Linked DNA regions of Homo sapiens: all the other regions are linked to region 3. Evidence: fine-mapped expression QTL. A gene starts in region 3. Each other region holds a variant in brackets. All regions are shown on one strand. Distances are between the middles of the regions. Region 1 has its middle 22 kb from the start of ADA2. Region 2 overlaps ADA2 (adenosine deaminase 2). Region 3 holds the start of ADA2 (adenosine deaminase 2).

What was found. PIP is the estimated chance that this variant, and not a neighbour inherited with it, causes the effect.
Region 1: its variant is fine-mapped to the expression of ADA2 in whole blood (TOPMed, PIP above 0.99). The same link has a PIP of 0.9 or more in blood mononuclear cells and monocytes.
Region 2: its variant is fine-mapped to the expression of ADA2 in whole blood (INTERVAL, PIP 0.99).

The regions. Positions count from the first base shown.
Region 1 is chr22:17,236,563-17,247,213 of GRCh38, forward strand. No RefSeq gene overlaps it. Among named protein-coding and RNA genes, the nearest start is that of ADA2, 22 kb to the left of the region's middle. RefSeq lists enhancers at 822-871, 942-1,031, 6,927-6,986, 7,007-7,266. The variant T/C (reference allele first, on the strand shown) is at 5,708.
Region 2 is chr22:17,168,548-17,179,198 of GRCh38, forward strand. ADA2 (adenosine deaminase 2) reads right to left here. Exons shown (of 10, transcript NM_001282225.2): 10 at 10,243-10,651. Among named protein-coding and RNA genes, the nearest start is that of HDHD5-AS1, 14 kb to the left of the region's middle. RefSeq lists an enhancer at 2,618-3,119 and a silencer at 2,970-3,399. The variant CA/C (reference allele first, on the strand shown) is at 6,288.
Region 3 is chr22:17,214,748-17,225,398 of GRCh38, forward strand. ADA2 (adenosine deaminase 2) reads right to left here and starts at 4,688. Exons shown (of 10, transcript NM_001282225.2): 1 at 4,609-4,688. It also overlaps the pseudogene FAM32BP. RefSeq lists enhancers at 4,065-4,425, 4,266-4,335, 4,346-4,475.

The sequences.
Region 1 (10,651 bases), 22 kb after region 3:
TTTTTTTTTTGAGAGGGAGTTTCACTCATTGCCCAGGCTGGAGTGCGATGGCGTGATCTTAGCTCACCGCAACCTCCGCCTCCCAGCTTTAAGCGATTCTCCTGCCTCAGCCTCCTAAGTAGCTGGGATTACAGGCATGCTCCACCACATCCAGCTAATTTTGTATTTTTAGTAGAGACGGGGTTTCTCCATGTTGGTCAGGCTGGTCTCAAACTCCCGACCTCAGGCGATCCGCCCCCCTTTGGCCTCCCAAAGTGCTGGAATTTCAGGTGTGAGCCACCACGCCCGGCCAGAAATAGCTCTTAAATCTATTTTATTGTTTATTAAAGCCATGGTTTGTGCTTTCCTGGTCTTCCCAGAGTTCTAGGCCCTGCCTTGGCTTCTCAGTTTGCTTCTCCCCAGCCCCTGAACCCAGCCTGGGGGACAGCCCTGGTTCTCTGGATGGATGGATGTCTGTCTGCTGATGAATGTGCAGTCACTGCCCACTGTGAGTTTTTTGCAGTGGTGATAGAAGGCTTGGAGGGGTGGGTACTTATCCCCAGTCAGTCATCAGAGAGCCCTTCAGGAGACGTCACTCATTTCTGTCTCATAATGAAACTGAAAGTTGAGACCTCTACGGAATAAAATAGGAAGGACAGAAAACTTCTGGTCCTGGGGCTGAGGTTGGGTGGTGGGGAGGGGGCAGGAAATTGGCTGCAGCCAAGACCCTTATTGTGCATGCCTTGAGAGGCCAAGCCCTGCAGTCAGCTGAGCTTGCTATTTTAGGTGAGGAGATCAGCCTTCAGAATCAGCTTATGAATCTTCAGACACCTGACGACAACCCAGAAAACAGGAGAGGAGGAGGGACTGGCCAGGGAGCCGGAGGCCTCCAAAGGGCCAAAGGAAAGGGCCCTTGTGGGCAAGAGCATAAACACCACCCAGAAGATGAGCGGGGATGACAGTTCAGGCCCCGCAAGAGGAATGTCCTCTGGTCAGAGTGTCAAGGCCGGTGGGTGCAGGGGCTTGGGGCCGAGTGGCAGCTTGCCCATCTGGTGGCTGCACCTGACAGGCACCGTTCACATGGACTGGGTTGGTGTGCACTGGGGCTGACCAGTGTCCTACAGAAAAGCTGAGAATGCTTTGGCAGCACTGAGACAACATTTAGGTTCGGCAATGACACAGATTCACAGATTTAAGCAAAAGCCTCCATTTTGTGGGCCATCAAACTGCCCATGGACAAGTTGTGTACCCACAAGAGACTGTTACCACCCCAACTTGCCTCTAGCCTTAGAGATGTTAGAGTAAAAAACAAAAATCAGTGGTCACATGTAAGCAATGTGTGTGTATGAAGTTAGCACAGGTGGCTACAGAGTGTATGGCAGAATATCAGGAATAGACCAATAGTCTGTGAATAAGAGGCCGGTTAAGTAAATTACGGTACCCATGTACCGAGTCCTATGTTTTATAAAGATAGATGAAGAACTTTTTCTATGCACTATAAAAAAACCTTCGCCGGGCACGGTGGCTCACACCTGTAATCCCAGCACTTTGGGAGGCCAAGGCGGGTGGATCACGAGGTCAGGAGTTCGAGACCAGCCTGGCCAACAGTGAAACCTCGTCTCTACTAAAAATATAAAAATTAGCCGGGCATGGTGACAGGCGCCTGTAGTCCCAGCTACTACTGGGGAGGCTGAGGCAAGAGAATTGCTTGAACCCAGGAGGCAGAGATTGCAGTGAGCTGAAATTGTGCCCCTGCACTCCAGCCTGGGCCACAGAGCAAGACTCTGTCTCCAAAAAAAAAAAAAAAAAAAAAAAGGCGGCCGGGCGCGGTGGCTCGTGCCTGTAATCCCAGCACTTTGGGAGGCCGAGGCGGGTGGATCACCTGAGGTCTGGAGTGCGAGACCAGCCTGAGCAACATGGTAAAACCCCATCTCTACTAAAAATACAAAAAAATAGCCAGGCGTGGTGGCAGACGCCTGTAACCCCAGCTACTTGGGAGGCTGAGGCAGGAGAATCACTTGAACCCTGGGGGGGCGGAGGTTACGGTGAGCCGAGATTGCGCCATTGCACTCCAGCCTGGGCAACAAGAGTGAAACTCCATCTCAAAAAAAAAAAAAAAAAAATAGTAGACACCGGGTTTCACCATGTTGGCCAGGCTGGTCTCCAACCCCTGACTTCAGGTAATCCACTCGCCTCAGCCTCCCAAAGTGCTGAATTACAGGTGTAAGCCACCGCGCCTGGCCTTAATTTTATTTATTCATTTATGTATTGTTTTTGTAGAGGTGGGATTTCACCATGTTACTGGTCTCGAACTCCTGGGCTCAAGCGATCCGCCTGCCTCTGCCTCCCAAACTGCTGGGATTACAGGCATGAGCCACCGCATCTAGGCTATTCATGGCTATGTTTTCAAAAAAGAAACTCTGGAAGGATACACAAGAGACTAATACAAGTGGCAAGCTGTTCAGATGGGTGAAGAATCAGGCAGAAAGGACAGGGAGTTGGAATAAGACTTCACTGTCATCACTTAGATGGTATTCTCATTTTTTTTTCAACCGTGTTACCTATTTGTGACAGGCAGAATATCTTCCTAAAGATCTCCGTGCCCTAATCCTGAAAATATGTTGTATTATATACAGCACAGAGAACTTTGTAGATCTAATTAAGGTCATGGACCTTTAAATGAGGAGATTAGCCGGAATTATCCAGGTGAACCCAATCTAATCCCATGATCCCTTAAAAGCACAGAGCTGTATATGGCTGGAGCCTGAGAGATTCAACATAAAAAGCCAGAGATTTGAAGGGTGGGAGGGACTCACGGCTGACAGAAAGCATGTCAGGGAGAGCAGGCACCCTCCAGGAGCAGAGACTTTTCCCCAGCTGACAGCCAGCAAGGAAAGAGGGGTCCCAGTCCCACAACCTCCAGGAGCTGACGTTAGCCCACAACCTGCATGAGTGTAGGAGAAGACTCCTCCAGAGCCTCCGGTCAGGAATGCAGCCCTGCCAGCACCTTGATCTCAGCCTGCAAGATCTTAAACAGAGAACTCAGCTGAGCCTCCCTGGACTTCTTATTTTTTAATTTAGAGACAGGGCCTTGCTCTGCCCCACCAGGCTGGAGTGCAATGGTGCAAACATTCATAGCTCACTGGAGCCTGGACCTCTCAGGCTGAAGGGATCCCCTCACCTCAGTCTCCCTCCTGAGCAGCTGGGACCACAGGCACGTGCCACCATGCCTGGCTAATTTTTGAAAAAATTTTTTGTAGAAATGAGGTCTCGCTATGTTGCCTAGGCTGATCTTGAACTCCTGGGCTCAAGCGATCCTCCTGCCTTGGCCTCCCAAAGTGCTGGGATTGCCGGCATGAGCCACTGCACCTGCTTTATTGTGATTTATTCTCTACAGTATTTTGTTAGAGTTTGGCTGGGTGTGGTGGCTAACACCTCTAATCCCAGCACTTTGGGAGGCGGGAGGATCACTTGAGCCCAGGAGGTCAACGCTACAGTGAGCTATGATTGTGCCACTGCACTCCAGCCTGGGCAACAGAGCAAGCCCTTGTCTCAAAGAAAGAATAAATCACACTGGATTAAAAAAAAATTTTCAAACATGAGTCAAGAAGCAGCCTGTGAAATATCAGGCTCAGCCCCAACTACATTTCAGGGCTAACTAGGCCCAGAGACCCACTGTTGGTGCTATTTCGTCAGCTCTTATCCAGGACCCTGATCCAGGCTCTCCTCAACATTCGCAAGAGAGTGTTTGAGAAAGAATGGTTAAAAGCAAGTGTTCAGTCGCACACACTCAGAGAGATGGCACAGTTTGTAATCCTAGCTCTGTGGGTCTCAGAGTATGGCCCCTGGCCAGACTCAGCAGCCTCACCTTCCCAGACCTCCCGACTCAGAAACTCCAGGGCGGGGACTCAGGAATCTGCTTTAACCACCCCTCCAGTGATCCTCGTGCATGGTCAAGTTTGAGAAGCATTGTATATCCTAGCTGAATCTTTCTTTAGGATGGATATCTTCCTTGAGGATGGATAATGCCATCTTTCTAGGATGAGTGATGGAGCTGCAGAGGCATTTCAGAAGGTCGGTCACTAGGTTTCAAGGGCTTAAGGTGACACAGAAACTGCAGTGTTGTAGAAGCAAACCAAGGACAACAGTGCACCCAGCTAGGTTAGATCAAAGTGGCGGGTAGCGAAGGGGAGTGGCAGCCTCCCTTTCACAGAAGGTTTGCTATCACACCCCACCCGCAGACAAAGCCCCCTGGGTATCACACTGAGGGGCCATGCACGGAAGGTGGGCACCATGCAATGAGGCAATCCACACCAGCCTCAAAGGTGCTACTCTCTGCTAGTCAAAGTCTACCTAGAAGACACTTCCAGACAAAGGCCAGCCTCAGTAACCAAGACGTGCCTGCAATGATTAACTGAACAGTTTTTTAAAACCTGGAAGGTGTTTGTGTGCTCAGATCACATCCTACGTGGTTGGGCAAAAGCTGGCAAAGTGTGACACATAGCTGACACTGGAAAACGGGAATCCAGGTGAAAAACAGTTTTCTAGGTGCAGGTAGGAGAAAGGGGGCAAACAAAATCTGACAGATACACGAGAGAGAACTCCAGGGTGTTGGCCAGGCGCAGTGGCTCACGCCTGTAATCCCAGCACTTTGGGAGGCTGAGGCGGGCAAATCATGAGGTCAGGAATTTGAGACCAGCCTGGCCTACATGGTGAAACTCTGTCTCTACTAAAAATACAAAAAAATTAGCTGGACATGGTGGCGGGCGCCTGTAATCCCAGCTACTTCAGAGGCTGAGGCAGGAGTATCGCTTGAACCTGGGAGGTGGAGGTTGCAGTGAACTGAGATCATGCCACCACACTCCAGCCCGGGCAACAGAGTGAGACTCTGTCTCAAAAGAAAAAAAAAAAAGAACTCCAGGGCATAAACTGCATGGGAGTCCCCTACCCTCTGCCCCTTGGGCCCAGGTCTCTCAATTCCATACACTCAGAGTTGGATCTCTTAAACAAACAGGCAATTGCCCAGATGGCCCGACCAGGCCTCCACTCATTGGTTTCTTTCTGGTCCTCTGACTGTTGTGCCTCGCCTGTCTTTCTCCCAGACGTTGTTGGAATTCCCACCTCCACATGCCCACCCCTAGATCCAGCTTCCTGGCTGGTGCCTGGGAGCGTGGCTTCTGCCCGCCCACTGGCCTGGCCTCAGAGGTCTGCCCTACCCTGACGCTAGCAACTGCTCAGACTAGGCAGCCCGTGGATGGAACTGCCTGATGCTGTCCTCCCATGCAAAGAGAATGGAGCCCTGGAAGAAGGCTCTCTGGAGTCACCCCAACAAAACACCATGTGAGCCTTGCACTTCCTTGCAGTGTGGCAGGGCACATCTCACATGGGTGCTTGCAGGGATGTGGAGGTGGGAATGTGAGAGGGTGGGGAGGGGTGTGGAGTGGCCAGGATCCAGGGGAGAATGCCCCACGGAGACAGAGACCCTTGGCTTGGTATGAAGGGAGCACAAGAAGGAGTAAATCCAGGACACGGCTAGACTGTGGCACCCCTGTGGGAGTGCCCGCACTTAGGGACACATGACCTTGGGGGAATTCTGGACAGCTTAGAGGCTTACTCCATGACAGAAGATACTTCCCTTCTGGAGACCTCAACTTCTCTCTGTGTTAGTTGGCTGAGGCTGCCATCACACAATATCACAATCTTGGTGACTCAAAAAACAGAAACTTAT[T/C]TCCTCACAGTTCCCTGGGCTGGAAGTCCAAGATCAAAGTGTTGACAAGCTTGGTTTCTTCTGAGGCCTCAGTGTGCCAACAAGGACCCTTGCTGTCTCTTCCCACTCCGAATTTCCTGTTCCTATAAGGACGCCAGTCAGATTAGATTAGGCCCACCCTAAGGGCCTCCTTTTAATTTAATCACCTCTTTAAAGGTCCTATCTCCAAGTACAGTCACCTTTTGAGGTACTGAGCATTAAGGCTTCAACACACGAGTTTTGGGCCAGGAGTGGTGGCTCACAACTATAACCCCAACACATTGGGAGGCTGAGATGGGAGGATCCCTTGAGCCCAGGAGGTCGAGGCTCAGTGAGCTATGATCGTGTCACTGCACTCCAGCCTGGGCAACAGAGCAAGACTCTGTCTCAAAACAAAACAAAACAAAACAAAACAAACCCATGAATTTTGGGGGAGACACCACTCAGCCAGCAACACTGTAAGTATGGAATACTAATACCAACCTATTTCACTAGTTGAGGGAAGTGATTTCAGAAGAGGGGGCTGAGATTTGTCATAATCAGCAGACCAAGTTTAGATGTAAGTACCTCCTGCAAAATTTCAGAAAGATCTGTCTTGTCCTTTGTCAACAGAAAAAATCACTCCTTCATGCAAGCATTTATTGAGTGCCTCTCTGTGCCAAGTTGGCTCACTGCAATGCAGATATTATCTGATCTAATCAAGGGGTATTTATTGAGTGGCGTTGGAGGTTAAAGGAGTATCAAACAAACTTGATCCCAGTCCTGAAGGAGCTTGTAATTCTTGCTGGAAAGGCAAGACCAACTCATAGGAAACAACAGGAACAGCAGCAGGTGATATACAACTGAGTTCTAAATTGTGTGGTGCAGACTTCAATTGCTGCTGGAATTGGGAATGAGGAAGATCAATGAGGGAGCGGGTCAGCACCAGCTAAATCACTTAGACTGAGGCATTCATCAGCCTGAGCCATTGTTCACGCTGCAGACTTTCTGTTCAAAATGGTAAAAGCCAGTCCGAGGCTGGGCACGGTGGCTCACGCCTGTAATCCCAACATTTTGGGAGGCCGAGGCGGGCGGATCACATGAGGTTGGGAGTTCGAGACCAGCCTGACCAACATGGAGAAACCCTGTCTCTACTAAAAATACAAAATTAGCCGGGCGTGGTGACGCGTGCCTGTAATCCCAGCTACTCAGGAAGGCTGAGGAAGGAAAATCTCTTGAACCCAGGAGGCAGAGGTTGCAATGAGCTGAGATCACGCCATTGCACTCTAGCATGGTCAACAAGAGCTAAACTCCGTCTCAAAAAAAAAAAAAAAAAAAAGCCAGTCCAAAAGCCTCAGTCACAGGGATGACTCAGGACCTTGAGTTTCATTTCATGTTTCTAATGTCATGAGACAACCGTGGGCCTCGCCCTGCTCAGCAGAGTCCTACCCCCCACTTTCTCCACACAGCTTCCCCTACTCAGGGTACATGAAAAAGGGGTTCCCCACCACAACTCTATGGCCACACCCCAGGGGGCAAGTTCAACCAACAGGCCAGGCGAATGAGCCCCATCTGTGCCCCATTCCCACCTGATCGGACCCCACAGCCCTTTGGGAGCACTCAGATACTGGTGAGAATGCCCCTGTTTGCTTGGGGGGCCCGTGGCTACTTATTGACGGCACAGGGCATCTGTTGAGAAGATGCAGGCAGGGGAGGGAAGGAGAGAAAGACAAGAGGAGCCTATGCAATTGGCGAGAGACACAGAGGACAGAGAACATGGGGAACTGAGGACTAGAACGGATTTCTGGCCTGACCCGTTCTGGGGGACTCCTTTTAGACCAGGGGTCTGTGTTGGCCCGTGAGTGCAGCTGGGCTCTCTCCACCTCTTTTCAGCCTCCTCTGCCACTCTGAAAGGCCCCAGGTTTTATTCCCGGTTCACATTGCCGCACCCATAACCCAGGGAATGTGGCAGCCCCTGCTGGGGTTTCACAGGCGTGCAGAGGGTGCCTCTGGGTAGGGCTTCATTCCTCTATGGGCAGGAGTCCCTGGGCACTGACCACGCCCTAGTGACAGCCAGAGTGCCTTCATTCCAAGTGCTATATTAGCAGTATCTTAAAAACCTGTCTGAGCCGGGCGCGGTGGCTCACACCTGTAATCCCAGCACTTTGGGAGGCTGAGGTGGGCGGATCACGAGGTCAGGAGATCGAGACCATCCTGGCTAACACGGTGAAACCCCATCTCTACTAAAAGTGCAAAAAATTAGCTGGGCGTGGTGGCAGGCGCCTGTAGTCCCAGCTACTTGGGAGGCTGAGGCAGGAGAATGGCGTGAACCCGGGAGGCGGAGCTTGCAGTGAGCCGAGATCGCGCCACTTCACTCCAGCCTGGGCAACAGAGCAAGACTCCGTCTCAACAAAAAAAAAAACCTGTCTGAAACAAGTACGTGAGAATTCACTTCTTCTTCTTTTTTTTTTTTTTGAGATGGAGTTTCGCTCTTGTTGCCCAGGCTGGAGTGCAATGGCACGATCTCAGCTCAACACAACCTCTGACACCCAGGTTCAAGTGATTCTCCTGCCTCAGCCTCCTGACTAGCTGGGATTATAGGTATGCATCACCATGCTGGGCTAATTTTGTACTTTTAGTAGAGACGGGGTTTCTCCATGTTAGTCAGGCTGTTCTTGAACTCCCACCTTCAGATGATCCACCCGCCTTGGCCTCCCAAAGTGCTGGGATTACAGGCGTGGCTACCTCGCCCAGCCGAGAATTCACTTTTGCTGAGAAAGTAATGGAGGTCCCACGGCCATTTTAGGAGCAACATTTGTTGGGGTGGAGTGGAGATCGGTAGTGCAAAATTGACCCTCCTAGATTACCCAAGAAAAATGAGCCCAAATCTGAACTTCTGAAGACACAACTTGAATTCACCACCTTTTTAAAATCTTTTTTTTTTTTGAGACAGAGTCTAGCTCTGTCGCCCAGACTGGAGTGCAGTGGCGCGACCTCGGCTCACTGCAAGCTCCACCTCATTTAGTTCAGGTACTAAACGGGTCACTGGGCTTAGTGGCAAGAGTTCCTAATGAGAAATACTACTTGAGGACTTACATTGTGCCAGATGCTTTACATGTGTGGCATCATTTAATCTTCCAGATATTATAACCATTGTCATTGTAGAGATGAGAAAACTGAGTCCTGAAAAGCTGACTAGTCTGGGGACATCACTTGTTCAAGGTCACATGGCTAGTCGTTGAGGAAAGCAGAATTGAACTCAGGTGACTCCATGGCCCATGTATGAACCACTGGGCCACACTCCCTCACTTATAAGCTGATGTTGTCAGTTCTCACTATCAGCAGGGTTGGTGCCTCTACAAAACCACAATCAGGAAGGGAGAAAGGCCTTAGGAATAATATTCTAGGCCTTCGACTACAAACTACAGCCTGCAGGACAAATTTTTTTCAACTTTATTGAGGCATTTTTTTTTTTTTTTGAGATGGAGTCTCGCTCTGTCGCCCAGGCTGGAGTGCAGTGGCGCGATCTTGGCTCACTGCAACCTCCGCCTCCCAGGTTCAAGCAATTCTCCTGCCTCAGCCTCCCGAGTAGCTGGGACTACAGGCACGCACCACCACACCCGGCTAATTTTTGTATTTTTAGTAGAGATGGGGTTTCACCATTTTGGTCAGGCTGGTCTCGAACTCCTGACCTTGTGATCCGCCTGCCTCGGCCTCCCAAAGTGCTGGGATTATAGGCATGAGCCACCGCGCCTGGCTGAGGCATATTTTATATATATAATTCATCCCTTTCAAGTGTACAATTCAATAATTTTAGTCAATTTACCAAACTGCACAGCCATTACCTTAATACATTTTAGAACATTACCAGTAAGACCATACTTTCAGGGATATCACTTCTAGAGTTTATTATAGAACACTGTCAGTATCCCAAAAGGATCCCTCATGCACACCTACCTGGAGGTCAAAATAGAACCTTCAGATGTTGTGCTTGGTCCACCATATTTAGAATATTCTTTTGATGGCTGGGAGGAGTGGCTCAAATCTGTAATCCCAGCACTTTGGGAGGCCGAAGCAGGCGGATCACATGAGGTCGGGAGTTCGAGACCAGCCTGACCAACGTGGTGAAACCCCATCTCTACTAAAAATACAAAAATTAGCCAGGTGTGGTGGCACATGTCTGTAATCCCAGCTACTCTGGAGGCTGAGGCAGGAGAATCACTTGAACCCGGGAGGCTGAGATTACAGTGAGCCGAGATCACGCCACTGCACTCCAGCCTGGGTGACACAGCAAAACCCCGTCTCAAAATAAAATAAAATATTATTTTGAATTTTTTGCTAGCTTTAAAAAAAGGAGACAACATCACATAGTATTAAAATTTTTAAATTCTCCTAGAAAAAAAAATCAGAATATTGGGCAAAAGGGGACTCTTCTTCATACAAGGCAAAACCAGTAGCTGCCCCCTTTAGACAGAGCTGGTGCTCTCGGGTCCACTCCATAAAATCAGTAAGAGGGTGCAAGTGGGGTCCCCAGAACCATGGCCTTCTAGCCTCCAGCCCAGACCCTTGGTTCCACAGCTCTTGGCAGATGGCAGAGCAGTCACGGCACTTTGTTATTAGAAAAAGCAAGTGCTGCCGGGTGCCGTGGCTCACGCCTGTAATCCCACCACTTTGGGAGGCCGAGGCGGGTGGATCACAAGGTCAGGAGATCAAGACCATCTTGGCTAACACGGTGAAACCCCGTCTCTACTAAAAATACAGAAAAATTAGCCGGGAGTGGTGGCAGGTGCCTGTAGTCCCAGCTACTTGGGAGGCTAAGGAAGAAGAATGGCGTGAACCCTGGAGGCGGAGCTTATAGTGAGCCGAGATGGCGCCACTGCACTCCGGCCTGGGTGACAGAGCTAGACTCTGTCTCAAAAAAAAAAAAAAAGAAAAAGAAAAGAAAAA
Region 2 (10,651 bases), 46 kb before region 3:
TGGGGTTTCACCAAGTTGGCCAAGCTGGTCTTGAACTCCTAACCTCAGGTGATCCACCTGCTTTGGCCTCCCAAACTGCTGGGATTACAGGCTGGAGCCAGCGTGCCTGGCCCCTGACAGAGTTCTAAGCATGTGGGAAGCATGCGAAGTCCACGCAAGTCCCTGGGCTGGGCTGCTAGCCTCCCTGCTTGGTACCTGGTGGCTGTTCCCCAGGAGGGCAGATAGACTCCCTGCTCTCTGCCCTCTTGTCATTGTGAGCTCCCTGGCCCATCCCTAGGCTGCACTGCACTTCCCAGTCAGGGCAGTGCCTGGACCCTCCAAATACAGCTCCTGCCATGGCCTCTTCCGAATCCTAGGGGCAAACGGGGCATTGATGCACTTAGCTCAGCCCTCACACTCTCCTGCCACCGACCCTGAGAAGGGGCAGCTGGCACCAGAGAGTCTCTGAGCTGAACCTGGGCTCATTCTGCAAGATCCTTCCTAGGGAGACTGGCATGCAGGCAAGGGGATCAGCTCCTGAAGGCCCCCAGACTCCCATAGGAGGGGAGGGAACTCCAGGGATAGGCAGAGGGAAGGCTCCTGGGGGAGTCAGTTGCCCTCCAGAGCCCAGGCTTACGGGTGGGCTGAGCAGATGGAGCCACTGCCTGATGCTGTCTCCCCATGCCCTGACTCCAAGTGACCCCACTGGCTGCTGCCCCTGTGGCTCCAGCCATGGATGGGTCCCAGCCTTTGACTGGCTGCACTTCATTGTATTTGATGGTTACTTTTTGGAGTCAACTTGACTGGATTGAGGGACACCTAGATAGCTGGTAAAGCAGTGTCTTGTGAGGCTGCTTCCAGAGGAGACTGGCGTATGAGTTGGTAGGCTGAGTGGGGAAGACGCCCTGTCAATATGGGAGGGTACCATCCAATCAGCTGGGAGCCTCGGTAGGACAAAAAGGCAGAGGAAGGGCAAATTTGCTGTCTCTCTCCTGGAGCTGGGACAGCCTTCTTCTCCTGCCCTTGGACATCAGAAGTCTAAGGGTCTTGACCTTTAGATGCTGGGACTTGCACCAGCAGCCCCCCAGGTTCTCAGGCCTTCAGTCTCAGACTGAGTCACACCTTCAGCTCCCCTGGTTCAGAGGCTTTCAGATTTGAACTGAGCCATGCTCCCAGCAGCCCCAGGTCTCCAGGCGGCCTGTCGTAGGACTTCTCAGGCCTCCATAATCACGTGGAGCCAATTCACCTAATAAATCCCTTCTCATCTATCTGTCTGTCTCCTATCTCTATCTATCTATCTATCTATCTATCTATCTATCTATCTATCTATCTATCTATCTACCTACCTACCTACCTGCATGCTATAGGTTCTGTCTCTCTGGAGAACCCTAATACGGTTGGGATGCAAATTGGAAGGCACACCACCTGTTAAGTAGTCCTGCTGAAAGAATCAATCCTAAATCTTATCAAGACTTGAGATCCAGGCGGGGCGCAGTGGCTCAGGCCTGTAATCCCGGCACTTTGGGAGGCTGAGGCAGGCAGATCACTTGAGGTCAGGAGTTCAAGACCAGCCTGGACAACATGGTGAGACCCCGTCTCTACTAAAATACAAAAATTCGCTGGGCACGTTGGCTCATGCCTATAATCCCAGCACTTTGGGAGGTGGCTGGATCACCTGAGGTCAGGAGTTCGAGACCAGCCTGGCCTACTAAAAATACAAAAATTAGCCGGGCGTGGTGGTGTGCATTTGTAATCCCAGCTACTTGGGAGGCTGAGGCAGGAGAATTGCTTGAACCTGGAAGGCAGAGGTTGCAGTGAGCCAAGATGGTGCCATTGCACTCCAGCCTGGGTGACAAGAGCAAAGACTTCATCTCAAAAAAATAAAAAATAAAAATAAAAAAATTAGGGAGGGCGTGGTGGCTCACGCCTGTAATCCCAGCACTTTGGGAGGCCGAGGTGGGCAGATCATGAGGTCAGGAGTTCAAGACCAGCCTAGTCAACATGGTGAAACCCCGTCCCTACTAAAAATACAAAAATTAGCCAGGTGTGGTGGCGCACACCTGTAATCCCAGCTACTCGGGGGGCTGAGGCAGGATAATTGCTTGAACCCGGGAGGCAGGGGTTGCAGTGAGCCGAGATCGCACCATTGCACTCCATCTGTGGGCGACAGAGCAAGACTCCATCTCGAAAAAAATAATAATACAAAATTAGCCGGGCATGGTGGTGTGCGCCTGTGGTCCAGATGAGGCAGGAGAATAGCCTGAACCCAGGAGGTGGAGGCTGCAGTGAGTTGAGATTGTGCCACTGCACTCCAGTCTGGGGAACAGAGTGAGACCCTGTCTCAAAAAAAAAAAAAAAGAGTTCAGAACAGTGTGGATACTGTGCTGCCTTTTATATGAGAGCAGGAAAAAATATATATATTTGCTTTTGTTTATTTTGCATAAAGAAACACAAGAAACTAAGCCTGGTGGGAGAATGGGTGGGATGGGAAAGAGGACAGTGGAAAACAGAGGTGGATAGAAGCCTTTCGAATGTGTTCCTTTTCATACTTTTTGAATTTTTGAAATGTGATTGTATATAGATTCATTTTAATTTTAAATGTAATTAAAATTTAAAATTCATTACGGCACTACTCTCTCATCCTGTACTATGGGCTCTACCCTTTTTTGTTTGTTTGTTTTTGTTTTGTTTTGAAGAGACAGAGTCTCGCTGTTTTCCCCAGGCTGGTCTAGAACTCCTGGGCTCTAGCGCCCCGCCTGGGCCTCCCAGAATGCGGGACTACAGGCGCCGCCACCACCCGGCGTCTACTCTAAATGCATAGAGGCCAGGATGACCCAAGGTCACCAGCGGCCGATGCTGCCTGGCAGGGGCTTGAGGCCGGGAGGGGACCCTGCGGACAGGCGAGACCATGTGTGATCTGTGGGAAGCAACTAAACCGGCGTATTCGCGGCAGGGGAGCTCTGTGCCGTCCCGCGGCCCCACCCCGCTCTGCCATGGGAAGCCGTAGCTTGGCGCTGCCCACAGTGACGCGAGGGACTCCGAGGGCACCCGGGCCGGGGTGGACACGGGAGTGGGCCCGGGCGCGGCCGGCAGGGGGCAGCAGCGCCGCGCCGCCCGCGCAGTTCCACAGGTGCGCCGAGCCTGGGGCCATCGCCTCCCTCCGGCCGCCGTCCCCAGCGAATCGCCGCCTGCGTTCTGCCGTTTCCCCGCCACCGCAGCCACCCGGGGCCCGGGGGGCCGCAGCCATCCGCAAGCCGCGGGGCGGCGGGACCGGGCGGGCCGCTAGGGACGCCGGACGAAGGGAGCCCGCGGGCGGGGTCTGGGCGCCTACATCCTTGCTCCCAGGGAGGAAGGGACAGGAAACTGAAGCTGTTTCCGGGGCTGACCCCGGCCAGAGAGAGCAGGGCTCGGGAGAGTCGGCGCGTCCCGGAGGCGGCGCCCCCTGGAGGCCGGTGTGCTTTGGCTCTGCAGCGGGGGAGATTAGGGGTGGAGGCCGACCGATCCCACTCAGCCAGGACTGGCAGGCGCCGGGAGCTCACTGGGAGGCAAGTGCCGACCCCCGAAACCCACTCCAGACAAGCGAAGAAAACAGCTCTGTGTCCCAGGACGAGCACATACCTACTGTCACCCACTGTGCGACCTGGAAGAGTTACTGACCCTCTCTGGGCCTTAATCAGTCATCAGAAACACAAACGCGTAGATAAGATGGTCTTTAGGCCTCTCCCAGCTCTGCTATTCTGTGAATCTAAGAAACTCTAGTCCCTCCACCAGTCCCCACCCCGGGCTGGCTTCGCTTCAGGGAGGCCTGGCTGAGCTGGGGCCCTCATCCAAGGTCTTTGCACGGTTCCTCAGCAAAGGTGTTTTGGAAGGCTGGGTCCCACCCCTTCCCGGCGGAGGAAGAGGCTATTGGCTAAAAAGCCTGGACAAATTCAAAACCAGCAGCTCGGCCCCGGTTTTTTCGGAGCACAGCCAAACCCAAATCACACCTCTGCACCTACCTAGCTCCAGAGATCTAGACAGCATTTACAGCCCCCAAATGTTATTTTTACACCCTTTCCAGGCAGGGAAGGACAGAGGAGGGTAAGCTATTTTTAGGATGACTGCTATTTAAAGTAACATACTGGCCTGGCAAGGTGGCTCTGGCCTGTAATCCCAGTGCCTTGGGAGATACAGGCAGGAGAATCACGTGAGGCCATGAGTTCAATACTATCCTGGGCAACAAAAGGAGACCCCCATCTCTATTAAACAGCCGGGCGTGGTGGTGCGCGTCTGTCGTCCCAACTACTGGAGAGGCAGGCTGAGGCGGGAGGGTCCCTTGAGCCCAGGAGTTCAAGATTATAGTGAGCTATGATCACAGCACTGCCCTCCAGGCTGGGCAGTGAGACCCTGTCTCAAAACAATAAATTAAGTAACCTAGACTATGTATGTGAAAATAATATTTCCAACCCTAGCATGCTGACTTCATCTGAGCTTACAGATGCATTTTCATACAGTCCTCCCCAAGGGATCAGTTCCTGTGAGAGCCAAGGATGGCACCACTCATTGAAATCCTGACCATGGGAAGGCGTCATTTGGGATTCCGGAATGGGTGGCTGAAGCAGTTTACAGAATCGCGTTCTGGTGAGCTTTAAGAATGGAACAGGCGCCGGGTGCGGTGGCTCACGGCTGTAATCCCAGCACTTTGGGAGGCCGAGGCAGCCAGATCACTTGAGGTCAGGAGGTCGAGATCAGCCTGGCCAACATGGTGAAGCCCCGACTTTACTAAAAATACAAAAATTAGCCAGGTGTGATGGCGCGTGCCTGTAATCCCAGCTACTAGGGAGGCTGAGGCAGGAGAATCACTTGAACTGGGATGGTGGAGGTTGCAGTGAGCCGAGATCATGCTACTACACTCCAGCCTGGGCGACAGAGTGAGACTCAGTCTCAAAAAAAAAGAAAATAAAAAGAAACAGGGACATCTTCCTGAGGAAGTCTCGGGCTGCTCTTCCTGAAGGTGAGGCTGGTTGCATAGTCTTTCAAGGTCCCTCACAAGCTGAGGCTCCTGTAAGTTTTCTCTTTTCAGCTAGTCTTTTCAAACGAACACACCTCCACCTCGCTTTCCTCCTTCCAAATGAAGAGCTGATCTAGAGCAGGCGCAGATCCAGATTTTGGGGCAGTCCTGAGGTTTATACATATTTGAAGGGTCTTCTTAAGGAAAAAAGAATAAAATCTGACTAACACACATTTCCTCTGAAATGGCAGCTTCGGGAGCACTGCTAAGGTAGCCGAGCCCTCCATTCCAGTGGCCACTTCCAGTCTAACAATTCCACCGTTTTCTCTTCTTTTTTCAACTCTTTCCATTCCAGTGGCCACTTCCAGTCTAACAATTCCATCGTTTTCTCTTCTTTTTTCAACTCTTTCCATTCCAGTGGCCACTTCCAGTCTAACAATTCCATCGTTTTCTCTTCTTTTTTCAACTCTTTCCCTCTTCCTGCCCATTTTTTTTATTTGTTTTGTTTTGGATGCTTGTTTGTTTGTTTTTGAGACAGAGTCTCGCCCAGGCTGGAGTGCAGTGGCATGATCTTGGCTCACTGCAACCTCCGCCTCCTGTGTTTAAGCGATTCTCCTGCCTCAGCCTCTTGAGTAGCTGGGATTACAGGTGCCCACCACCATGTCTGGCTAATTTTTTTTATTTTTAGTAGGGACGGGGTTTCACCATGTTGGCCAGGCTGGTTTCGAACTCTTGACCTCAAGTGATCCACCCGCCTCAGCCTCTCAAAGTGCTAGGATTGCAGGGATGAGCTACCATGCCTGGCCATAATATTCCCATTTTAATATGCATAAATTGTATTTCTGTGTCTACACACACACACACACACACACACACACACTCCAGTAACAATGAGCACATCTAGTGCCTAGATCAGGGCTACTAAATATTATTCTCTACTGAAAGGAACAGAGCTCCCTGGAGAAATGGCTGAGCTCAGGCATGACACAGGGAAAGTACAAAATGAAGGTAGAACATTTTATTGCGTAAGGAAGAATGGCCAGATGCAGTGGTTCACACCTATAATCCCAGCACTTTGGGAGGCTGAGGTGGGCAGATTGCTTGAGCTCAGGAGTTTGAGACCAGCCTGGGCAACATGGCAAAACCCCATCTCTACAAAAAATACAAAAATTAGCCAGACGTGGTGGTACGTGCTTGTAGTCCCAACTACTAGGGAGGGTGAGGTAGGAGGATCTCTTGAGCCTGTGGGGTCAAGGCTGCAATAAGCTGTGATGGTGCCACTGTACTCCAGCCTGGGGGATGGAGCAAGACCCTGTCA[CA/C]AAAAAAAAAAAAAAAAGGAAAAAGTAAGAAAGTTCTCAATTATAGAACTTTATCAGCAGCCAACTTAACAGGGCTCCCATGGCCAGATCTGGAATAGTGTAAGCATCACAATAAATAGTGCTAGTAATGGATTATAGCTCATTGAATACAACCTGAATCCCTGAGTCGTACAGCTAGAAGGAAAAAAGGGGCCGGGCACAGTGGCTCACGCCTATAATCCCAGCACTTTGGGAGGCCGAGGCGTGCGGATCGCCTGAGGTCAGGAGTTCGAGACCAGCCTGGCCAACATGGTGAAACCCTATCTCTACCAAAAATACAAAAATTAGCTAGGCGTGGTGGTAGGCGCCTGAAGTCTCAGCTACTTGGGAGGCTGACGCAGGAGAATCACTTGAACCTGGGAGGTGGAGGTTGCAGTGAGCCGAGACTGCACCATTGCACTCTAGCTTGGGCAACAAGAGCAAAACTCTGTCTCAAAAAAAAAAAAAAGGAAAAAAGGAAGCTGGGAGGGAAGGAATTGTTCTTCCTTGCAGCAAAATGGCAACTAATATGGAAGAAATGGTAGAATTAGAAAATCACCATTTTGGCCAGGCACAGTGGATCACGCCTATAATCCCAATGCTTTGGGAGGCTGAGGTGAGAGGATTGCTTGAGCCCAGGTGTTTGAGCCATATTGGGCAACATAGTGAGACTTTGTTTGTATCAAAAAAAAAGTTTTAATTAGCTGGTTGCGGTGATGCATACCTGTAGTCCCAGCTACTTGAGACGCTGAGGCTGGAGGATTTCTTGAGCCCAACAGGTCAAAGCTGCAGTGAGTCGTGATCATACCACTGCACTCTAGCCTGGGTGACAGAGCGAGACCCAGAAAAAGAAAAAAAAAAAAAAAAAAAGAAGGAAGGAAGGAAAAAAAAATCACCATTTGATGGTTGTATTTTCCAAAATATTTTCCAACGACTTCTCTTATCCTATATATTCTTTTTTATAATGTGACTTTGACAATCTTCTATCAAAAGTTGGGATCTCTGTCTCCTCCGCTTAAAACCAGGAGGTGTTTTTTGTTACTGTTGGGACCAACGAAGTATGGCAGAAATAATGCCATGTGACTTCCAGAATCTTCCATTTATTCCGTGGAATACTTACCCCAGAAGTTGAGGCCAATGGGAAGAAGCCCAAACTAGCCATAGGAGAGCACCAGCTGAGCCCTGGGGCTGTGCAGAGAGGTGACCCCTGGCGGCCCGTCAGCTCCAGCTCTGCCTCCACTGTGACAAGGACCTCATGAGAGACCCAGAGCAGAACTGTCCAGCTGGGCTCTGCCCAAACCCCTGACCCACAGACACTGGGAGAGATCATAAATTTGTTTGTTTGTTTTGGGTTTGGTTTTGAAATGGAGTTTCACTCTTGTTGTCCAGGCTGGAGTGCAATGGCACCATCTCGGCTCACTGCAACCTCCGCCTCCCGGGTTCAAGCTATTCTCCTGCCTCAGCCTCCCAAGTAGCTAGGATTACAGGCGTGCGCCACCATGCCTGGCTAATCTTGTATTTTTAGTAGAGACGGGGTTTCCCCATGTTGGTCAGGCTGGTCTCAAACTTCTGACCTCAGGTGATCCGCCCGCCTCGGCCTCCCAAAGTGCTGGGATTAAAGATGTGAGCCACCACGCCTGGCCCCATAAATTTTTATTTTTGTTTCAAACCACTACGTTTTGGGATAATTTGCTACACAGCAATAAACGGAACAGCAACCATGATAGTAATAGCAGATTTAGACAAAAGTCCTCAGTGGATGCAAGCACTAATGGGTAAAGTTTTAAGGAGGAGTGAAGACTTTTACATAAAGTGTCTCCTCTCCAAATATGTGTTAATTACTAAGGGAAAAATGGTAACTTCGCAATGGCAAATTCTGGCAGAAATCAACTTAAGCGATCAAAGTCAGTATCATATTGAGACAAATTAACATTGTATGCATCAGTATGCTGGCAAATGTGTAACAGCTGGCTGGTGGGGACATGGATTTGTAACATTTGCTGATTTTTGTGGCACAAAAACTCCCACAAGCCTGGTGTCGTGGCTCATGCCTGTAATCCCAGCACTTTGGGAAGCCGAGGCGGGAGGATGGATTGAGGCCAGGAGTTTGAGACAGGCTAGACAGTATAGCATGATCCCATCTCTACAAAAAGTAAAAAGAAAGAAAACTTAGCCGAGGTGGCGGTGCACGCCTGTAGTCCCAACTACTTTGGATGCTGGGCAGGAGGATTGCTTGAGCCCAGGAGGTAGTGGCTACAATGAACAGCGATCCTGCCACTGCACTCTAGCCTAGGCAATGGAGTGAGACCCCTGTCTCAAAAAAAAAAAAAAAAAAATTCCCATCAAGACCAATTCCAGACTCCTAAAGGTTTAACAACAAGCTGGAAGTATAACACTTGGCCCCATTCATGTGCCCCTGGTGTGTACACTGAGAAGGACAAAGCCTCGCTGCCAAGGTGCTCCTCTCAAAAAGGTATCCCCTGAGCCTCTTCCTAGGGAAACATTAGATGAACCTGAAATGAGGGATAGTCTATGAAGTAACTGGCCTGTACTCTTCAAAAATGAGGTTCCAAAACACAAAGGAAGACTAAGAAGCTATTTCAGACTGAAAGAGACTAGAGAGTTGACAGCTAAATGTAACTTGTGATCCTGGATTGGGTTCTGGACCAAGAACAAAACAAAACAAAGCTCAGCAGGGCCAGAGCCAGATACTAGCGTCTTTTCAATGTTAATACTTTTCTGATTTGATTGGATGTACTGTGGCTCCATAGGAGAATGTCACTGTCTTTAGGAAATGTGCACTGGAGAATCTAGGAATAAAAGGCATAATATCTGCAACTTAGTCTCGAGTGGTTAAAAAAAATAGGATATATAGAGAGAGCAATTAGAAACAGAGAAAGAATGATATATGGAATCAAATGTTGTAAAATGTTAATAACTGGGGGAACCTGGGCAAAGAGAATGTTAGAGGTTTGTGTTGTTGTTGTTGTTATTTTTGTTTGTTTTTTTGAGACAGGGTCTCGCTTTATTGGCCAGGCTGGAGTGGAGTGGTGTGATCTCAGTTCACTACAACCTCCTCTTCCTGGGCTCAAGCAATCCTCCCACCTCAGCCTTCTGAATAGCTAGGACCACAGGCACACCCCACCATGCCCAGCTAATTTTTGTATTTTTAGTAGAGATGAGGTCTGGCCATGTTGCCCAAGCTGGTCTCAAACTCCTGGGCTCAAGCAATCCACTCGCCTCGGCCTCTCAAAGTGCTGGGATGACAGGCGTGACCCCCTGTGCCTGGCCTGGTAAGAGTTTTTTGTACTATTCTTGCAACTTTTTGAAATTATTTCAAAATGATCAGATAAATGCTCCATGGACATTTAGTTCAATAGGACTAGGCCTATGCAATGAGGAATAAAGTCAAGAAGGAAGAACTAACAAGCTTTGTAAGTTGAATTTAAAAGCTTAAAGACTGGATGTGGTGGCTAGTGCCTGTAATCCCAGGTATCCAGGAGGCTGAGGCAGGAGGATAACTTGAGGCCATAGTTTGAGATCAGTTGATCAGCCTGAGCAACATAGTGAGACACTGTCTCCAAAAAAAAAAAAAAAAAAAAAAAAGGCCGGGTGTGGCAGCTCACACCTGTAATCCCAGCACTTTGGGAGGCCGAGGCGGGCAGATCATGAGGTCAGGAGTTCAAGACCAGCCTAGCCAACACAGTGAAACCCCGTCTCTACTAAAAATACAAAAATTAGCCAGGCGTGATGGCAGGTGCCTGTAAACCCAGCTACTCGAGAGGCTGAGGCAGAAGAATTGCTTGAACCCGGGAGGCAGAGGTTGCAGTTAGCCAAGGTCGCGCCACTGCCCTCCAGCCTGGGCAACAGACACTCTGTCTCAAAAAAAAAAAAAAAAAAAAAAAAAGAAGGAAGAACTGGACACAAAGCACAAAGGCAAGACTATTGCTGGTTCATTTTGCCAAATCAGAGATCACAGCAAGTCCAGGCCAGAGGCTGTTTGCGTCTGCCTGTGTTGGAGGTCCCCTGCGCAGTTGGGACCTAAAAGATCTTCAGGGATTGGGTAAGGCACTGAATCACCTGCAGAGTTAGACAGGACCCTAGAGGTTGTCTTCTTCCATCCAGGCACAGCTTATGGTTGCTGTTTTTTCCCAGTTCCAGGAACCAAATGGTGATAAACTAGGAATGGAGAGAGGGCTTGCTGCTGTCTGAGAGCTCAGGTACAGGTCATGGAAGATGGATGAGAGGACATTCGCCTGGGGCTTTTGAGGAATTCTTTGATTCCCTGCCATCCTTGAGTTGGGTGAGGACAGAGGTGGCTTCTTGCATCCTTCTTCCAAGGCCA
Region 3 (10,651 bases):
ATGGAAGGAAACACTTTGTTCCTTTCTGAGCCCATTCCCCAAAACCCTCCTTCCAGGTACTCCTAATGGGTATTGCCATGGCAGACATTGCTAATGGATCACAGCATTCTTTGAAATGGAGCCCAGATATAGCCTGCCTGTCAATCCTCAGCTGGGGGCTCCTAGCAGCCTCTTGTATTTATTCAGAGTTGACACATCACACGGAGCCTGTCTGGCATTCCTACCCTAAGGACACCTCAGGGGTGACAGGACCAGGGCAGAGCCCCAGTACAAACAGACATGGGTGCAGTCAAATGGGAGGGCCCAGGCATCCGTCTTGGAGGGCTGGGATTTTGTAGGGCCTGTGTGTCCTGGTTGAGGATCAAACCGCATATGCTATTGGGAGAAACAATCTCTGTGGACATACATACTGAAAGAATAACAAAGGCAGAAGAGAAAAACAAAGTGTGGAATTTGGGGTTCTCCTGTGTAAATTACACAAGAAAGCAGAAGCCAGTTATTTAAAAAAGAAAGAAAATGTGGCATATATACACAATGGAATACTACTCAGCCATTAAAAAATGAAATCACGGGCTGGGCACGGTGGCTTACGCCTGTAATCCCAGCACTTTGGGAGGCCGAGGCAGGAGGCAGGTGGATCACGAGGTCAGGGGTTTGAGACCAGCCTGACCAACATGGTGAAACCCCGTCTCTACTAAAAATACAAAAATTAGCTGAGCGTGGTGGCGGATGCCTGTAATCCCAGCTACTCAGGAGGCTGAGGCAGGAGAATTGCTTGAACCCAGGAGGCGGAGGTTGCAGTGAGCCGAGATCATGCCATTGCACTCCAGCCTGGGCGACAGAGCAAGACTCCGTCTCAAAAAAAAAAAAAGAAAAAAGAAATCACGTCATTTGCACCAACATGCACGGAACTAGAAGACATAATGTTAAATGAAATAAGCCAGACACAGAAGGACAAACACCGTATGTTCCCACTCATGTGTGAGAGCTAAGGAAGTTGATCTCATAGATATAGAGAATAGAAAGATAGACACCAGAGACTATGAAGGGTTGGGGTAGACATGGGGGATGAAGAGAAGTTGGTTATGGGTACAAATAGACAAGCACTTCAAGAGGCTGAGGCAGGAGAATCACTTGAGCCTAGAAGTTGAAGACTGGCCTGGGCAACAAAGCGAGACCCCCATCTCTACAAAAAATTTAAAAATTATCGGCAGGCAGATCACGAGGTCAGGAGTTCGAGACCAGCCTGACCAACATGGTGAAACCCCATCTCTACTAAAAATACAAAAATTAGTCAGGCGTGGTGGCGTGCACCTGTAATCCCAACTACACAGGAGGCTGAGGCAGGAGAATCGCTTGAACCTGAGAGGCGGAGGTTGCAGTGAGCCGATATCGCACCACTGCACTCCAGCCTGGGGAAGAAGCAAGACTTCATCTCAAAATAAATAAATAAATATAATAATAAAAATTATCCATGTGTAGTGGTACACACCTGTACTCCCAGCTACTCAGCAGGCTGAGGTGGGAGGATCACTTGAGTCTGGGAGGTCAAGGCTGCAGTGAGCCATGATGGTGCCATTGCACTCCTGCCTGGGTGACAGAGTGAAACCCTATCTGCCCCACTCCCAGGAAAAAAAAAAACCTACAGTTAGATAGAAGAAATAAGTTCTAATGTTTCATAGTAGACTAGGGTGACTATACTTAGCAATAATATTATGTATATTTCAGAGTAACTAAGACCGGGCATGGTGGCTCATGCCTGTAATCCCAGCACTTAGGGAGGCCGAGGCAGGTGGATCACAAGGTCAGGAGTTCAAGACCAGCCTGGCCAACATGGCAAAACCCTGTCTCTACTAAAAATACAAAAACTAGCCATGTGGCGTGTGCCTGTAATCCCAGCTACTTGGGAGGCTGAGGCAGGAAACTTGCTTGAACCCAGAGGGCAGAGGTTGCAGTGAGCCGAGTTCGTGCCACTGCACTCCAGCCCGGCAACAGAGCAAGACTCCACCTCAAAAAAAAAAAAAACACACACACACACACACATATATATAGAGAGAGAGACTCAAATAAAATGGATTAAAGTTAAAATAAATAAATAAATAACAAATATAACCAGAGCACAAGATCATAAGACATGCTTCAAACTGAGAAAGAAACCAAAACAAAACACACAGAGATAAGGAACTGAGAGGAAACAAAGCAACACAGGAAATAAAAGAAAAACCTGAAAGAACTGTAATTAACATCCTTAAAGACATAAAACATTGTGTGTGTAAAACAGGAACAGGAGGTGATTAAAAAAATGAGAATTAGAAAGAACTTTCAGAAATTAAAAACAGCAAAGCCGAATGTTTAAAAATTTACTAGCAATATTAAAAATGAAGTTAAAGAAAATATTTTTAAAAGTAAAGCAAAATAGGAGAAAAGAAAATGAGATGATTATTGGTTGAAGAAATCCAACACCCAAATAACAGACATTTCAGAAGGAAAAAGAAAAAAAAAACAGGTGAAGGAAATAAGCCAATAAGGAATACAAGAAATTGCCCCAGAACTGACAGTCTTTAGATTGAGTACCTTGCACAGCACAGTCAATCATTCTGTGGCCACACCAAGGTACAGCATCTTGGTATTTCAGAGCATTAGCATTAGAAAGGATTATCAAAACTTGCAGAGAGCAGCCAGTTCAGGGTGGCAACGAGCAGGGACTGAAGGAAGGAAATGTATTCAGCATCTCCTCACACAAGGCTCTATGCTGCTCCTTTACCTGGGTTATCTATTTGAATTACATTTAAGAAGGGGCAGTGGCTCATGCCTATAATCCCAGCACTTTGGGAGGCTGAGGTGGGCAGATCACTGGTGCCCAGGAGTTCGATACCAGCCTGGGCAACATAGCAAAACCAAAATACAAAAATTAGCCAGGCGTGGTGTATTGAACCTGTAGTCCCAGCTATTCATGAGGCTGAGGCATGAGAAGTTCTTGAACCTGGGAGGCGGAGGTTTCAGTGAGCCTAGATTGCACCACTGCACTCCAGCCTGGGTGACAGAGCAAGACTCTGTCTCAAAAATAAATACGTAAATAAAATTTTTAAAATGAAAATAAAACGATTGTTTCTCTACACTTGAAAGTATGATACAGCATACTGGAACATGTCAAGACTGTAAATTAGGAGACCTTAGGAACAGCCTCAAATTAGTATCATTCTAACTGTGCAACCTTGGGCAAATCACTAACGTCTCCAGATCTCAGTGTCCTCACCTACAAAAAAGGTAACTTGGACAAGATCAGTGGTTTTCCAAGTGCAGCATGAATATCATCAGTGGCATAAATACAATCTTAGGTGGCTCACAAATGGATAGGGGTTATGTTGACAGATAGGTAATTTTAAAACATGTATTAGCACATCAAACCCATGATATCGTAACTATTATTGTTTTTGTTGAAAAATTTTTAAGTTAAAGAAAAATATTAAGTAAATAGAGGTGCAAGGATATGACAAAAATGGAAAGTTTGCTACTCATTAAATCATTTTAATATCCAAGATTCTTCCCAGCTCAGTTATTCTGTAGTACATCAGATAGCAAAGAAAATTTTAAGAAGGAACTAGTATCAGCAATATGCAGTTATGGCAGAAGCTGTACCCCCAAAATCAGAGTGCTGGACGTCAGCAGAACCCCTTTAACTTCATTAAGTCCTTGACTCTCTTTTTTGACCACGGTGTTTGCCTGCTACTAAAATCTCTAGGGCAGGAGCACGGTGACTTCTATGTCACCATCCCACCTACCCCATGCCACATTCTCCATCAACAGCCCCGCCCCTTGTCCCTGTCTCCCTGGTGACACATAACAAAGGCCATCAAGCTCCCAAATCTTCAACTCCATCCTCTCCAAGAAGGACCCCAAAAGCATTTGTGTCCCAGCAACTGTGAACTTTTCCAGGCTGCCAGACAGAAGTTTATCTAATGGTGGTCAAGACCTGCCTGGTTGAATACTAGTAAAAACAATCCTTATTCACAATTTATTGCTATATCTACTTCATCTTCTCTCCTCCACAAGATTTTCCTTTTACTTTTAAAAGAGGATGCATGAAAACTTCATAAAGTAGTTTGCTTCCAGACTAAGAAGAAAGGAGGCTGGGTGTGGTGGCTCTGCCTGTGATCCCAGCCCTTTGGAAGGCCGAGGCAGGCAGATCACCTGACGTCAGTCGTTCAAGACCAGCCTGGCCAACACGGTGAAACCCCGTCTCTACTAAAAATACAAAAATTAGCCGGGCGTGGTGGTGGGTGCCTGTAATCACAGCTATTAGGGAGGCTGAGGCACAAGAATGGCTTGAACTCGAGAGGCAGAAGTTGCAGAGAGCCGAGATCGTGCCACCACACTCCAGCCTGGTGACAGTGGAGTAGGCCACATGCATCTGTGGTCCTGAGTAAATGCCCTTGGGCCCATTTTCAAAAGCCTGTTGGGAGAAAGCCTGTTACTCCTCCACTGAGAGTCTCAGACCCAGCTCAGATGGAGACAGGGAGAGGTGCAGGTGGATCAAGCCCAAGCTCCGGACTTCCCAGCTACCTCCTGAACCTCATCATCCCACAGCTCCCAAAGGACCCCAGTTACCTCGGAACAGCTCCAGAAACTGAGGGCTGTTTGCTCAGCGCCCCAGCATCTGTGCAGAGCACCGGAAAAGCTCACCAACTGTTTCACTTCCTGTTGGGGTAGGTTTTATTTCCCTCCAGTGTGCACCAGGGATCCAACTAGAGGCCGGGGAGAGGGGCTCTGCAGTGCTGAGGCAGCCAGAGTGGCAAGTGTGTGGCTTACATGCATGCTTGCTGTGTGCATCTGAGTTTGATGTGGGGGGCTTGTGCGCATGTTCATGTGGGTGTTTGTGTGTTCGTGTGTGTTTCGGTTTATGTGCATGTGGGGTTTGTTTTTTTTTTTTTTTTTTTTTTTTTGTAGACAGAGTTTCACTCTTGTTGCCCAAGCTGGAGTGCAATGGCGCAATCTCAGCTCACTGCAGCCTCCGCCTCCCGGGTTCAAGCAGTTCTCCTGCCTCAGCCTCCCGAGTAGCTGGGATTGCAGGCGTGCGCCACCATGCCCCACTGATTTTTTGTATTTTTAGTAGAAATGGGGTTTCACCATGTTGGTCAGGCTGCTCTCGAACTCCTGACCTCAGGTGATCCGCCCACCTCGGCCTCCCAAAGTGCTGGAATTACAGGCGTGAGCCACCATGCCCGGCCGCATGTGGGTTTATTTGTGTTGGAGGGAGGGTGTGTGTGTGTTTGTGTGTACTGTGTCTTTGAAAGGTCCACAGCATGTTGGTTTTGGAAACAAGCACCGCAAAGAGGCACTCCAAAATCTGTTCATGAACTCTGGGAAGTTCTCCTTCCTCAAAATGTGATTGTGGACTGTGGGGCAACCCATTAGACAGAGAGTAAAAAGTAGCTATAATAAAATATATGTTTTAGGGGGGAAATCAGGGATGCGGGGACAGGACAGTAGAGGGGGCAGGAGGTAGGAGACAAGAGCTGGGGTGTGAAGAGGACCAGCAAGAACAACGCTCCAAGGGACAAGTGGAGCAGACAAGGCTCCTGTACCCAGGACGGTCAGAGTCAGACCTCGCTTTGTAGCTGGCCTTAGCACTGTAGCAGTGGGGCCTCGACCAAGTTGTTTCAACTCTCTATACTTCAGTTTCCTCATCTGAAAATGTGGATAATAAAAGCACCCACCACAGAGGGTCCATTGTCAGAATTAAAGGAAAAACACATGCAAAGTACCTGCCACATAGAAAGCTCTTGATAAATATTAGCCATGACTATTCTTAGAAGTAACTATTGGGATGCCTCATCCAAGCCAATTAGAAATGCAGACATGGGAGGCTACACCAGGGACCTCCATGTCACATGCATGGTCTAAAGACTCGATTGCACCCCACTCCTCCCCAGTCCCACTCAAATCTACCCCCAAGACCCCAAATCTACCCCCAAAAGCCCACGGCAGTTTCAGTTCTGCAGCTCCCATACATCTGGAGCCTTGATGCTCCTTTTTGTCATTTTCTCCAAAAAGTACCAAGGTCATTCATTTAATAAACAGGAAGAAATCCCAAAGTGAAAACACAGAGGGGTCAGGGATTCCCTCATCAAGAGTTCAAGACTAGGCTGGGCTCAGTGGTGCATGCCTGTAATCCCAGCACTTTGGGAGGCCGAGGCAGGTGGATCACAATGGAAGGGGTTCGAGACCAGCCCCTACTAAAATACAAAAATTAGGTGTGGTGGTGCGCACCTGTAATCCCAGCTACTTGGGAGGCTGAGGCAGGAGAATTGCTTGAACCCTGGAGGTGGAGGTTGCAGTGAGCTGAGATTGCACCATTGCACTCCAGTCTGGATGACAGAGTGAGATTTTGTCTCAAAAAAAAAAAAAAGAGTTTAACACTAATTTTTTGAAAGTTAGAGGAAGCAGAATGCACCGCAAGTAATAAGGAGAAACAAGATTGATTCCAGCGCCGCACAAAGGGAAACCACCAATTCTGAAAGTAAATCATGTGAAGGGTTTTTTGTGGGTTTTTTTTATACTTTAAGTTCTAGGGTACATGTGCACAATGTGCAGGTTTGATACATAGGTATACCTGTGCCATGTTGGTTTGCTGCACCCATCAACACATCATTTACATTAGGTATTTCTCCTAATGCTATCCCTCCCCCAGCCCCGACCCCCCCGACAGGCCCTGGTGTGTGATGTTCCCCTTGAAGGGTTTTTTTAAAGACCAGGTCAAAGCTAAAGATCAAGCTTTTCTTTCCAAACGCTTTAGCTAAAAGTAGGAGCTAATTTTCACATCTCCGAAGGTGGCTCCAGGACTCCAAGTCACACCTTGGCAAGGGTGTGGCAGCTGGCAGAGGACTGCAGGTCCTTGTCAGGCAGAACCTGCCGGGTTCTGGGGAGTGGAGACTCAGATCTTGAGGTGGAAGCAGAGACAAGAGCTGGGCACACTTACCTGGATGTGGGGTTGGGAGCGGTGAATCAGAGCCCAGTTAGATCCTGGAGGCTGGCAGCAGGCTCTGCAGAGGTGCAGGGGCACCTCATTCAGAAGGGGCCATTTATTGGCCCTCTGTGGCTAAAACCAGCTCCAAGCAGGACTTTTTATGGCTGGAGTCGCCTCCAAAGGGGCGTCGGCCTCCACTCAGGTGTGACTCTGAGCGTTGCCTAGCTGAAAAGGCGTGATGATAGGGAGCACACGTGAGGCCATTCGGGAAGAATATTTTGCCAAGTGCAGAGGCCGTAAAAACGTGGAACATGGCTCTGTTTTTTATGCTCTATTGAAAATGATCATCAGAAGCAGAAACTGGGCTTGTGTTCAGAACCTGAAAATCTGCAGGGCAGAAAAACAGGACAAAGGCATCTTTTAGTGACTGCAAAACTAAACCTCAACAGAAAGATGCCTGAAGAGACAGGTGGATTATGACCTCAGAATTGGAGACAGGAGAGGTTTTCAGAATTAAAGATCATCTATGGCTACACAAACATTTGAGAGGTATTTTCATTAAAACATCCCTTTCTTCACACCAATATCATGAATTATATGCTATGCACAACCTATAACAGAGTATAGCAGAGTTACCAGTGGTTTAAAGTGCTGCATATATGATTGTTATATGAGGTAAATAAGATTCTCTGACCCAGAGTTAAGAAAATGGAAATAATAATTGCTAAGGCATATTAAGAATTATATATGTATGTGTGTGTGTATATATATATATATATATATATATATATATATATATATATATATATAACATTTAATCCCTACAGCAATACATACCTATAAATGAGTATATACAAATATGTGTGTGTATGTGTGTGTGTGTATATATACTCATTTAATCCTTGCAGCAATCTTATAAGGTAGGGACTATTGCAATCCCCACTTGAGAGAGGCGTACCCTGAAGCACCTGGCAGTAAGGTAACTTGCCCAAGGTCACACAGCTAGTAACAAGCATAGCACGGCCTTGCAGGCCCAGGTGGGTTCCACCACACCGCTTTCCCTGGCAGCAAGAAAATGGAAGGTTTTTGAAGTAGTGGGGGAGTCACCGGGCACAAGGAAGCAGATCCCTGGAGGAACACACAATTAGCAAAAGTGGAGCCCAGGAATAGACGTTACCAGGCATAAGTGATTTTTCCAGACACTGGGAACTTGTGTTTTGAAACACCAAAGTATTTTTAGGAAGCAGAAAAGTTAGCTCTTTCATTGAACTGCTATGTGGTTTTGAAGAAAATGTCCTAATATCCATAAAACTCAAAGCTTTAATCTGCAAGAAGGAAAAAATGTCATGTGCCTCCTACTAAGTTTTTTTTTTCTAAGTAAGTTTTTTGTGTGTGTGTATGTATGAAATAATATATGTGAAAATTTTTTTTTGAGACAGAGTCTCGCTGTGTCACCTAGGCTGGAGTGCAGTGGCACAATCTTGGCTGTCTGCAGCCTCTGCCTCCCAGTCTCAAGCAATTCTCTGCCTCAGCCTCCCGAGTATCCAGGATTACAGGCACCTGCCACCATGCCTGGCTAATTTTTTTTTTGTATTTTTAGTAGAGACGGGGTTTCACCATCTTGGCCAGGCTGGTCTTGAACTCCTGACCTCGTGATCCACCTGCCTCAGTCTTCCAAGTGCTGGCATTACAGGCGTGAGCCACTGTGCCTGGCTGAAAATATTTTTAAAACTATAAAGCAACTATACAATTACACAGCATAAATGATTTTCATTTTTCTTTTTTTTTGAGAAGGAGTTTCACTCTTATTGCCCAGGCTGGAGTGCAGTGGCATGATCTCGGCTCACCACCACCTCCGCCTCCCGGGTTCAAGTGATTCTCCTGCCTCAGCCTCCCGAGTACCTGGGATTACAGGCATGTGCCACCACGCCTGGCTAATTTTTGTTTGTTTGTTTGTTTTGTTTTGTTTTGTTTAGTAGAGACGGGGTTTCTCCATGTTGGTCAGGCTGGTCTCCAACTCCCAACCTTAGGTGATCTGCCCGCCTCGGCCTCCCAAAGTGCTGGGATTACAGGTGTAAGCCACCGTGCCCAGCCCAGCATAAGTAATTTTCCTTGCACAAATCTTTCTAGTATTTTTTCTGGCTTCTTAGGGTGCAGTGAACATAATTTGATCTTTTTTGAGGACTTGGTATCATTATTATGAGCATTTATCATAATACTTTCTATTGCTATTGCATTATCACTCTATTTCCAATGCCAGTGAGGTGTGGAGCTTTGTTTGCCCCTGTCCTAAATGGCTTCAGACTGCTCTGCTTGTATGTATTTTTATATAATTTTTCTGTCCCTTCCTATGCAGTTCACTTGTCATTCTGGGTAGGTCTAAATTCCAGCAATCCTCTCCCTCTAATGCTTTACTTCTTGTGGTCTAGGGACTGAAGAACAAGATACTCCAACAGTACCAGTGAGAGCCCCTTCAATTGCTCTATGAGTTGGGGCATATTCACAAGTGCATGGATGGATTCTCAATTAGAGATTGCAGGCTGAACACATGAATTAACCTTAGTTCCTCTCCAAAACCTGCACTAAAATGACAGTGGGGAAAAAAATTAAGCATATATTCACAAGGTTGAAGAAAGCAAGAAAGGAGAAAATAGCAAAAAAAAACTTGGAAGATGGAAGGTACATAAACAAGTGCTAATAATTTAGAAGACAAAAAAACAAACAAACAAACAAAAAAAACAAACACTGAATCTGAAACCAGCAGTGACGAAAGAAACCTCGGATACCTGTGAAAGTGAGGCTGAAGGTAAGTCCAAAGCAGGAGAAATGGAGGAATGGCTGGAAAGCCTTTTTAACAAAAACCTAGAGCCACAGACATTCCTCCCACTCCCTCTTCAGCAGAGCAGTGAAGATTTGTTTTCAGGGAAAGGTAAAACAGAGTTTCTGGCCTAGTTAAGGATGGGGTTATCATACTAAAAATGAAGACTTTTTTTAAATTTTGCATATTGAACACTGAGTCTTCCAAGCCTTTCTCCCCTATTAGTCTCCCAAACATCAGCAACTTATATCCACAGTCAAGAAGAGGGAAAAGCCTTCTCTAGGGCTTTATCCAGCCTCACTGGAAAGACCTAATGATATTTAAAGGGATGTACCAGGTCACGATCTAGTAAAACTCATGGCAACATAGCTTCCTCCCTCCCTGCCCTTCCCACATACAAAGAGCTTATAACATCCTTTTAGTACCCTACTCTTAAATATAAGTAGACAGCCAAGAGTTACTACCTTTGAGAAATACTATTTTATGACAGAGAAAGAGCATCTCAGAAGAAAAAGAATAAGAGGGAGAAGAAAACTTTATCTAAGATTATTAGCCTTAGAGATATAAAAGATGTTATGCCCACAAAACAACAACAGGATTCTATAGAAAAGGAATAGGCAAAGAATGAAAAAGATGCTCTGGGGCCAGGCGCGGTGGCTCACACCTGTAATCCCAGCACTTTGGGAGGCTGAGGCGGGTGGATCACAGGGTCAGGAGATCAAGACCATCCTGGCTAACACGGTGAAACCCCGTCTCTACTAAAAACACAAAAAATTAGCCAGGCGTGGTGGCGGGCGCCTGTAGTCCCAGCTACCTGGGAGGCTGAGGCAGGAGAATGGCATGAACCCGGGAGGTGGAGCTTGCAG